Linked DNA regions of Homo sapiens: regions 1, 2 and 4 are each linked to region 3. The links come from fine-mapping of genetic effects on gene expression. A gene starts in region 3. Each other region holds a variant in brackets. All regions are shown on one strand. Distances are between the middles of the regions.

Region 1 (2,692 bases), 59 kb before region 3:
GCCCAAGATTCGAATAGAACTCTTCTTCCAGTAAGAGATTCCAATATCACCTTAGAAAATCCTAGCAGAGGTCTGATCAGAGTGGGAAAAATACCTACACTAGGATGAAGGACCAGAGGGCCATAGGCAGGCTTGTGAATTTTTACTTTGCTATAGACAGCAAGACTAACTCCACACCCCTCTTGGTGCTGGTCATGATTAGTTTAGGAGAGGAGTGGGGTTGAACAGATAGTAGGAGGCCATTTGTGCCTGCAGCAGATCTAGACTTAGGGGAGAAGGAAAATGACATCTCTCCTCTAAAATGCGGATTCCTTCCCTCAGAGTCTCTACAGTAATCTTTTATGGGAGTGATATGACAGGTAAGTGGTAGAGTTGTGAGCCTTCAGGGAGAGAACTAACTTAAAAGCACTCTGAAATATTGCCAAACGGCATTCATATGTAAGGCATTAGAATAATAATGATAATTATTGCTTGTAGTAACTGATGTCTGAGAGGGCATCAACCTGGTATGGTAGCAGGTGACACAGAAGGAGAAGAGACCATGAACATACAATGAGCTCATTTCTCTTCTGCTCAAGGAACCCAAGTAATTACAAAACTTCAGCATATGTTTTGCATTACACATGTGGCTCTGTCAAAAATGATGGAGTGGTGTCACTTTATGTCTCTTTGAACTAAATGAGAGAGAGAGATGAGAAGTAAGTAGGCAAGAGACTGTATTTGATTTTATCTTTCTGCTTAAACTGTGTTTTCAATTTATAAACCAATTGGATACAAAATACTTATTACAGAACATGACTCTTTCCTTTTATATTAGAGGAGTTATCAACAGAGTGGTTTCTTGTGCTTATTAGAATCTTTGTTCAAATAAAGCCAAGTAAGAAAAATGGGTTGGGCCTCATCTGTCAGAGGGCAGAGGTAAGAAATAAGTAGACAAAGCACAGTATCAGAATGCATTTGACTGCAAGAAATAGAAAAGTCATCTGTACAGGCCTAAACAAATGAGCTTTGTATTTCTAACATAACAAGAAGTCTGGAGGTAGGCAGTTGCCTGAGTCAGTTCAGTAATCCAATGATTTCAGGGCCAGCTTCTTC[A/G]TCATTTTCCTGGCCAGAATATAGCTACCATGGCTCCAGTCACCATGTCCATGTTCAGGACAAGAAGGAAGACTGGTAGAGACATTCTACTTGTGGAGTCTTGTCTTTTTATTAGCAAGAGAGCCTTCCCTAGTGGACTTTCCCTTTGTCTCCTTGGCCAGGATTCAGTCATGTGCCCACTTATTGGCCAATCCCTGAGGAAAGAAAAGAAAATTACTATGACTGATTTAGACCAATTTCAGCTCATTCCTTGTTGTTGAGGTAGGGGTCTACCCTTCCTGAAATCAAGGGATCTCTTTCAAAAACCTGAATACAAATTGGAGTTTTGTTACCAGGGAAGAAGAGAGAAACATTTCTTGTTTAGACTAGGCACAGTGTCTGCCTTATGTGCCAGTGGATCAAAAAGTGGCTGCACACCCAATTCAGGGTGGGGAGACTCCTGAAAACTTAGTACAAAAAGATTCACAGAACTCTGCACATTAAACTAGAAAGTTGTCCCTGGCTAATCTTGTACTCCAGTATCTCCATTGCAGAGTCTTATGTGGTTCTTTCTTTCTCACTGCAAACTAAAGATGAAGGATTCTTTTGGGAGGCTGAAGTGGGCAGATCACTTGAGGCCAGGAGTTCGAGACCAGCCTGACCAACATGGTGAAACTCCGTCACTACTAAAAATATAAAAATTAGCCGGGCATGGTGGCAGGTGCCTGTAATCCCAGCTGAGGCAGAAGAATCACTGTAATCCCAGCTGAGGCAGAAGAATCACTTGAACCCGGGGGGTAGAGTTTGCAGTGAGCTGGGATCATGCCACTGCACTCCAGCCTGGGTGACAGAGCAAGACTCCGTCTCAAAAAAAAAAAAAAAAAAAAGGATTCTTCAGCCAGTGCATAGCCCACTGCAATGGGTGGTCTCCTGCCCTTTTTCTTTTTCTTAAAATTTGTATTATTTTAATTATTTTTATGTACAGAAATCTCAACAGTGTGCATTTAACCCAGTTTGGTGGCAAGTTCTTTAGCCTTTGCCTTTTCAAGCTTGGCAATGCGAGCCACAGATTTGGGACCCAGGACATTGCCTCCCCAGTGACGGCAGATCTCATCGTATCTGTTGTTGTAGTTGGTCCTGATAGCTTCCACTAGCTTAGCCAAAGCTTCTTTGTCTTCCAAGTTCACCTGTGTGAAGGTGACAGTGATCCAGGTCTTCCTGTGGACTATATGTCCCAGTCTTGCCTTCCTCTTGATAATGCAGGGGAAGAGACCCCCATTTTATGACACAAGGCAGGTAGGAAGACAAGCTTGATGGGATCCACATCATGTACAGTCACCACCAGCTGAGCCTTCTTGTTCTCCACCAAGGTGGTGACGGTGTTAACTCCTGCTTGAAGGACAAGTGGTCTCCTAGTGGAGATGTCCCCTTTGCTGCAAGCTTTCTTCTCAGCCCGGACCAACAGCCTCTGCTTCTTCTCTTGCTTTGTCTTTCTCTTGTTTGGTCTGTAGTTGTGGGCCAGCTGAAGCAACTGAGTAGCTGTTTGGTGGTGCAGGGCCTGGGTGAACTGGTTAATTTCAGGATGCACTTTCAGCCACTTACAGAGGATGACTCTCTG
Region 2 (2,692 bases), 140 kb after region 3:
TGCAAGGTAAGATAAATCAATCGAACAAGTTATCACAGTCTTTAAATACTAAATAACAGAGTAGTTTGGGTTTTCATATACAAAAGCTTATTGACTTCTGTGAGAATGACCAACTTGAATGTGACTGTTATTAATACAGACCACTCACTTCAGATTTTAAACAGCATCTTTTCTATAAGTACCAATTGGCTTACTTTAAAATTCACATATTTACAAAACAATTTTTAAACATGTTTTTAGTTAAGGACATAACATATAACAATATTGTTGTTGCTTTGTAGGGCTGCATTTATTTATAAAGTATAGTTTTAAAAATATCTTCTGCATTCTTTTAAAATTTACTTCATGAAATGTGTTTTATAGATATGGAATCTGATATTATTCCTGAGGATTATGATGAGAGAGGAGAATTATATGATGATGTTGATCATCCTCTACCAATAAGCAATCCACTAACAAGCAGTCAACCAATAGATGATGAAATTTATGAAGAACTTCCAGGTATTTACTTTCTGGTGATTCATTTAAAGATTTTAGGGCTGTGTGTGTGTGTGTGAGTGTGTGTGTGTGTTTGTGTGTGTGATTTGTCCTCGACAGCTTGAGTAGAAAATGGTGACCTATTGAGAACAAGGACAAAGAATATCTTCAAAACTCTATTTTACAAAAAGGGTTCTGCTTGAGATATTTCAAGTGAGTAGATGTAACTTACGAAAAGTGAATGAAACATTAAAATGAAGCAGATACAATACTAATCTCTTGGGACTTGTGGCTCATTAGCATTGTTTATGCTACATAATTTTTTAATTAAAAAATTGACTTGCCTTACAGTTTTTTCCACCAACTCACACATCGTTTTTTATTTATACATCTTGGAACTTCCATTAACCAGAAGTTCTATGCACACCCCAGATGTTACCAACTTCTGCCTCGTATTTCTCCTTGCTTGTAGTATATTGCACTGTCTCAGAGGAATGTTGTTGAACTATAAACAAAGGCCTTTTGAGGCTTCAAGTCTTCCTGTTGATATTTTAGCATCAATATGGAATAAAAAAGTTTTCTTATTCCAAATGCTCAGACCTAGTTTAGTGTTTACATGCCTGTCTGTTATGTAACATAAAATTAATTA[T/C]CTATTAGCTACTTGACTTGCGGCCATGAGGATCAATCTAAAATAAAAAGACATCTGAAATTTAGGAAACATATGAAAACATTTAGGAAATTGTATTACTAATACTCTAGGCTGAAATGAGCTTTTTTGGCTATTAAAAAATCAGTAGTTAGAGAAGAAAAAGGTATCATAAGCAATATAAGCAAGATTTAACTAGTACATCTCATGTAGAGAGGCCATTTTGCTCTGAATATAACAATTTAATGATGTAATGTTAAACCTTTAAAATTGATTTCAAAAATACTTAAAATGTTCCAAATTAATGTACAAATGTCATTTTCAAGACAATACAGCATAATACCAAGAGTATGGACTTTAGAAGAAAAAAATTTAAATTCTGGCTGTACCATTGACTAGCTTAGTGACTTTATAAGTTAATTTCTTCATTTATAAAATGGAAATAATGTCATTGGGAGGGGTAGGTGAAGTGATTTATGGAAGGCTTTCAGCATAGTGCTTGATCCCACAATTAATTGTAACATCACCATCATTTTTGTTTTATTATTGTATCTGGTGAATTCTTGCAAGTGCTTATGTGGTGGTACAGTAATGGTTTTCTAACCAAGTAAAAAGTAATAATTTTAACAATATTATAAATTTAAGGTATAAAAACTATGTATGCATCTACATATTGTATTTTACTACCCCAGAAGATTAGTATAAAAGTATAATTTTATGGGGAATAGTGATCTGTGTATTTCAGTTGTTTAGTGGAGCTACATGTTTATTAACCCCTTCCTTTCTGGTTTACCCTAAGGAAATGGCATCTGCTGTAGCATCAGTTATCCTCAAGTAGGGAAGAATATTCCCTGGCTGCTTGTTTTTGGTCACACCATATCATTAATACAATTATTTTAGTATTTAAAAATGTTTAAAAGAACTTGTGAGAATGTATACTCATAAAATGGAAGAGTGGAATACATTTAAACACGATATTACTGCCATTACATCCTTTTAAAACCCTGCAATGAATGTGTTACATTACAATTGTTGAAATAACTGTTAAGTTCTGTATTTTTTCAACTTGGCTGTTCTCTCCCCACCCCTAAAGAAAAAAAAAATTGATCAGGAATAAAGACCAGATATTCATAGTTATTTTCATAACAAAGACCTAAGGAAGGTCTGAGTAGCTTGAAATTTTAAAAATATGAAACATCTTTTATTTTTTCTTACTGGAGATATTATTCTTCATTCTTCCTTGCCCCCCTCCTCACCCACCCTCACACATAATTGTTGGAAGTAACTGGTTACTTTTTAAGTAGTGTTACTTCTTGCTGTGGTACTGGGAGAAATTTAAGCTGCCCTGGAATTTCTTTTCCCCTGCTTGGGATCCCCAGTTGCTCTGCAAAGTGATCGAGCTTGATGGAGCCTGCACCTGTGCCCCGGGAAGGAAGCCGTTGTAGGCAGCTGTGGAATGTCTAGTTCCCTTCTTCCCCAATGTAACTGAGAGCTGCTTCAACATCTGCACGGTTCAGCAAGTTTGTCAAGTTTGTGCCAACGGCTACAGAGGGGATTTTTCTAGTAAAG
Region 3 (2,692 bases):
TCTGCTAACTTCCAACTTTTCTTCTGCAGCTTCTTTACCTCTCAGCCTTCGTAGACTTGAAGAGAGTTAGGGCCTTGCACTCGATTAGGCGTTGGCTTAAGGGAATGTTATGTCTGGTTTGATCTTCTATCCAGAACATGAAAACGTTTCTTTACCAGCAATAAGCCTCCTTCGCTTTCTTATCATTCGTGTGTTCACTGGAGTAGCATTTTTACTTTCCTTCAAGGACTTTTCCCTTGCATTCACTACCTGGCTGTTTGGTGCAAGAGCCCTAGCTTTTGGTCTGTCTCGGCTTTCAATATGCCTTCCTCACTAAGCTTAATCATTTCTAGCTTTTGATTTAAAGTAAGCTTTTGATTTAAAGTAAAATGATTCTTTTACTGGAACACTCAGAGGCCATCGTAGGGTTATTAATTGGCTTAATGTCAATATTGTTGTGTCTCAAGGAATGGGGAGGCCCAAGAGAGGGAGAGATATGGAGGAAGGTATAGGGTTGGTAGAGCAGTCAGAACACACACATTTATGGATTACAGTCGCTGTCTTATATGGGTGCTGTTTGTGATGTCCCAAAGTAATTATAATAGTAACTTCAAAGATCACCATAACATATACAATAATAATGAAAAAGTTTGAAATATTGTTAGAATCACCAAAATGTGACAGAGACATGAACTGAGCACATGCTTTTGGAAAAATGGCGCCCACAGATTTGCTTGATGCAGGGTTGCCACAAACCTTCAATTTGTTAAAAAATGCAATATCTGGGAAGCACAAAGATGTATGCCTGTTAAAGGTTTTAAAGAAGCCATTTTTTTTAAAAGAGAAAACTTTTAAGAAGCTTTACAGATAGAAGACAGTAAGTATTTGTTGACTAAATGGTCAAGTTGGAGTGAGCAGATTTTATAATTTTATTCTACTAACCACCACCAGCAATTTTATTTTTGATGCTTGTAGATGGACAGTGGTGCCAATGTCTATTCGGCCTTCTGTTTTTTTGTTTTGTTTTGTTTGTTTTTTCCTGCCAAAGGACGGTGCTTAGAACTTCCCAGTCTTCCTTGTAGTGGGGAAAATCTGTCACCCCAAGGATACGAATTAGGTAGAAAAGTAATGTAAGAGCCAATCACAACGCGCGCTCCGGAGCGGCTCCAGACTGGCTTCGCCCGGACGACTGGCGGAAGACGAGACTTCGTTACCTCCGTTCAATCGGACAAAGAAGGCCATAATAGTTTAGGACAAGAGAAAATTCCTTGTGGGTTAAACTGCGGTGGGACTGACTGTTACGCAGAAGGCGTAATCGCAAAACTTGTATACACTCTGTATCATGGATACATTATTTTCTGGAATCCTGCAGAAACGATCAGCAGTTGTGATGGCACCAGTACCGAAAATGGCTGTAAGGCGCTCCGGACGCTGGATCAGGTGACGCAGCATCAGGTGACGCAGCCTCAGTCCGCCCCCTTCCCACCAGTGGCTCCTCCTCCTGCTTCCCGGCGTAGCGGTGGGCGTGGCTTGCCCACAGGCTCTTTCTTCTGGGGCCGGGAAAACCGAGGAATACACATGCGCAGTTGGACCCCTCAGGCCCTTCGTGTCCCTTCCCACCCATCTCCCCGCCCCGGCCCTCTGGGCGGGGCTGGGCCGACAGTCCAGCTGCAGCTCGCTGGAGATTCAGTGACTTCCTTGTTGTGAGCCCCGGCCCGGCAGTGTCCCGACTCGTAGCCCCGCTGTTCTTAATCCGGGCCGCTAGCCTGAGTCTAGGTCGCAGCCGCAGCCCCACCCCGTCGGTCACCTTTTCAGCGCAGGTCCTTTCCCCGCACGCCCTGCGCTCCCTAACATGCCCAACCCCAGCAGCACCTCCTCTCCCTACCCCCTCCCTGAGGAAATTAGGAACCTGTTGGCAGGTAAAGAGCGGGAAGGCGGCGATAATGCTGTCGGGGCGGGGGCGAGGGAACGGTGAGCCGGTGGGGACAGAAGCATTCAGAGCCCTTATCCTCCCTCCCCGCGCTTCCCACGTCTTCTAGCCAGTGGGGTCGGCACAGGGAGGAGAGGAGAGGGGTTGTTTTGTCTCAGAAAGGGAGTGGACGTGTGTGTTGAAATTTGGTGCGGGGATGGTGGCGAAGCCCTTTTTGGTGATCTACACAAATGGGATCAGGACGTTTCTATGTGCATTGTGAAGACGGTGTGTGTGTGTGTGTGTGTGTGTGTGTGACAGAAGGGCGGGGGAGGAAGAGTGGAAGAGGGAGAGAGAATGATAATGATAATGAATGCTGCGTGAGCAAGCAGAAGGGAGCAGAAGTCAAATAAGTAGTTCTTGGGTGGTCTGGCCAATGGAGGTAGAGGATGTAGAGATGCAAAGAGCTGTCAGAGCCACAGGTGTTAGGGGTTATGGGGTGAAAGAGTTTGTCATTTCTAAAACTCCCGTTTTTCTTAAACATTCAGCTCACTCACGTTTAAGACTTTTGAAGAAGGTCTGGTTCTCAAATGGCCACTTGTCCCCAGCCTCAGTAATATATTAAAGCAAAAAAGGAAGGATATGTTAAAGTTCTACTTCCTGTGTGACACGATGAAAGTACTTCATCTTTGTACCCTTATCTTCCCTTTTTCAGTTTTACATTACCATTTATAGGAACTTATTTTAGGAGCTAAAAACGTGGTTCTTCAGTAGCATTATGAATCCACTACTAGTTCATTAATT
Region 4 (2,692 bases), 49 kb before region 3:
GTGAAACCCCCATCTCTACTAAAAATACAAAAATTAGCCAGGTGTGGTGGCGGGCGCCTGTAATCCCAGTTACTCCAGAGGCTGAGGCAGGAGAATCGCTTGAACCCAAGTGGCAGAGGTTGCAGTGAGCAGAGATCGCGCCACTGCACTCCAGCCTGGGTGACAGAGCAAGACTCTGTCTCAAAAAAAATAAAAAATAAAATAAATCCGAGACTCATCCGCCCGACAAATTCCTCTCAAAATATGTCTCCTGAAAACCTGATGTGTATTTCTCTGTTAAACATTGAGATCTGTGAAACCCTTTGAATTCTCCCTTCTGTATTGACTAAAAGTTAGAGCTAAACTTCATGCTTAATGGTACTAATAATTTTATTCTAGTTTCCTGATATACATTTTCTTTCTCCTTCCTCTGTGGTGGTCTGTGGAATGGTGTTGGTGGTCTCTGAATGCCTGAGTTAGTATACAAAAGTGTGTGTTATGTGTTTTGTTTGTTTGTATATACTTATTTGCATTTTCTGGGGAAAGAGCACAAAGTTTTCATCAGATTCTCAAAGGGATGCATTATCTCCCCAAATTTAAGGACTATAATACTATCTGGTGTTTTATATTTCTGATCTCACCTTTAACTGTTCTGTCTTTATAACAATTATGTTTGCATTATAAACAACCTAAATCCTTTTTCTTTTTTTTTCTTTTTTTTCTTTTTTTGAGACAGAGTCTTGCTCTGTCGCCCAGGCTGGAGTGCAGTGGCATGATCTCAGCTTACTGCAAGCTTGGCCTCCCAGGTTCATGCCATTCTCCTGCCTCAGCCTCCCTAGTAGCTGGGACTACAGGCACCCGCCACCACTCCTGGCTAATTTTTTGTATTTTTAGTAGAGACAGGCTTTCACTGTGTTAGCCAGGATGGTGTCGATCTCCTGACCTTGTGCTCCACCTGCCTTGGCCTCCCAAAGTGCTGGGATTACAGGCGTGAGCCACCGTGCCCGGCCCCTAAATCCTTTTTCATGGGGAGAGAGGGAAGGAAAAGCTAGATGGCAGTAAAAATTAAACAAATACAAATACAACAGCATATTTTATTGTCAAGTACTCAGTCTGTTAGTAGGTATGATTTTGGGGGGCTTTCTCCCCACTAGAAATAATGGACTACATCGGTATGGTATACATCTATATGAAAATGTAATCTGATGTCTTTTAATTTTTTTTCCTGGCTTAAGAAAAAAAAAATTATCTAGACAGGTCTATCTAGAAGGTCTCCTATATGAAGCATCTCCTAAATACTATAGGGAGATTATGTACATAGAAAATTCCTTTACCATGTGACATTGATATACATATTGACTTGGGAAGGAAAAACTCCACTGTGTTGTACTTTTTTCTTTTTTTTTTTTTGAGGCTGAGTCTCACT[G/C]TGTTGCCCAGGCTGGACTGCGGTAGCGCCATCTCCGCTTACTGCAACCTCCGCCTCCCGAGTTCAAGTGATTCCCCCACTTCAGTCTCTCAAGTAGCTGGGGTTACAGGTGCCCACCACCACCCTTGGTGATTTTTTGAATTTTTAGTAGAGTCTGGGTTTCAGCATGTTGACCAGGCTGATCTCGAACTCTTGACTTCAGGTGATCTGCCTGCCTCAGCCTCCCAAAGTGCTGGTATTACAGGTGTGAGCCACCGTGCCTGGCCTGTGTTGTACATATTAATGTGAGATTTTAAAGACAACTCCACAGGACTTGCCTTGCTAATTTGGAATCTTGTTCAGAGAAAAAGACTTGATGAGAAAGGATCTCAGGAGATCAAATAGTAACACCATACCATTGGAGGAGCAGATATATTGCCCCTTAGAATAAAATATCTTCTATCTTGATTTTTCAAAATAATTTTTTATGAACATATTGTGAATTACACAGGACACCAACTCTGCTGCTTTGGGAGCAAAAAGACAGAGCTGACAGATGTAGATATTTGCCAGGAACAACCATGTGAATTTATAAATATTTTACAAGTGCAGCTTTCAGAAGAGTGACTTTTACTGCCGTATTAATGCAACTTGCAAATTTATAGTCTGGGCACTTGTGGGTTATGAATGTCCAGTATTCAAGGCTAGTGCCAAGAACATAGTTTATGTTTTGAAATTCTTTTTTTCTCTGATTACAGACTTCTTGGCTGTTAAGATCTACATTATAATTCAGCTGCACATGAGGTGCAAGGCTACATAATACATCAGTTTCCACTCCCAATGGCTAGACTCATAAATATACTCATTACAACACACTTCATGTGACAGAATGACATACAAAGCATAAAAATATCTCTATAGAGTAGAGAACTAGTGGTAGTAGAAGCAACAGTAGCATGATTCCATGCCTCTGGCCAGACCCATAATATGTGACCTAATATTATAATTATTTGTCATAATATAAAGAAAATTTGAATCATACGTTTTTAGAAATAATATCTTAGTATATATTAGATCAACACACTCATGAGTGTTGTCATATGTATTGAAGGCTACACTACTGAAAAGAATTTAGTTACTCTAATCTTTTGGCAGGGAGATTATGGAGGAAGAAGCACCACTGCAACTCTTTCCTTGTAAGTTTCTAAGTTGCTTTTCCACTGATTGTGCCCAAAGTAAAAGAGTCTTTCTAGCATTCCAGGCTCTGGAGAAAGAGAGCAGATTTATCTGGGCTTGAGCAAAAAACAG

Alleles and levels. Positions count from the first base shown, and alleles are read on the strand shown. Sizes are in standard deviations (SD) of each study's normalised expression. Not every link is listed here.
In carriers of allele T in region 2, the expression in sun-exposed skin of the gene that starts at base 1,671 in region 3 tends to be lower than with C alone (small effect, 0.22 SD a copy in GTEx).

Evidence for each region.
Region 1: its variant is fine-mapped to the expression of SKAP2 in whole blood (INTERVAL, PIP above 0.99).
Region 2: its variant is fine-mapped to the expression of SKAP2 in sun-exposed skin (GTEx, PIP 0.93).
Region 4: its variant is fine-mapped to the expression of SKAP2 in whole blood (INTERVAL, PIP above 0.99).

Annotation. Positions count from the first base shown.
Region 1 is chr7:26,922,299-26,924,990 of GRCh38, reverse strand. It overlaps the pseudogene RPL7AP38. Among named protein-coding and RNA genes, the nearest start is that of SKAP2, 59 kb to the right of the region's middle. The variant A/G (reference allele first, on the strand shown) is at 1,096.
Region 2 is chr7:26,723,237-26,725,928 of GRCh38, reverse strand. SKAP2 (src kinase associated phosphoprotein 2) reads left to right here. Exons shown (of 13, transcript NM_003930.5): 8 at 1-6; 9 at 364-501. Among named protein-coding and RNA genes, the nearest start is that of LINC02860, 87 kb to the right of the region's middle. The variant T/C (reference allele first, on the strand shown) is at 1,127.
Region 3 is chr7:26,863,569-26,866,260 of GRCh38, reverse strand. It overlaps SKAP2 (src kinase associated phosphoprotein 2), which reads left to right and starts at 1,671. Exons shown (of 13, transcript NM_003930.5): 1 at 1,671-1,898. The coding sequence starts at 1,832. RefSeq lists an enhancer at 1,104-1,433.
Region 4 is chr7:26,912,659-26,915,350 of GRCh38, reverse strand. No RefSeq gene overlaps it. Among named protein-coding and RNA genes, the nearest start is that of SKAP2, 49 kb to the right of the region's middle. The variant G/C (reference allele first, on the strand shown) is at 1,406.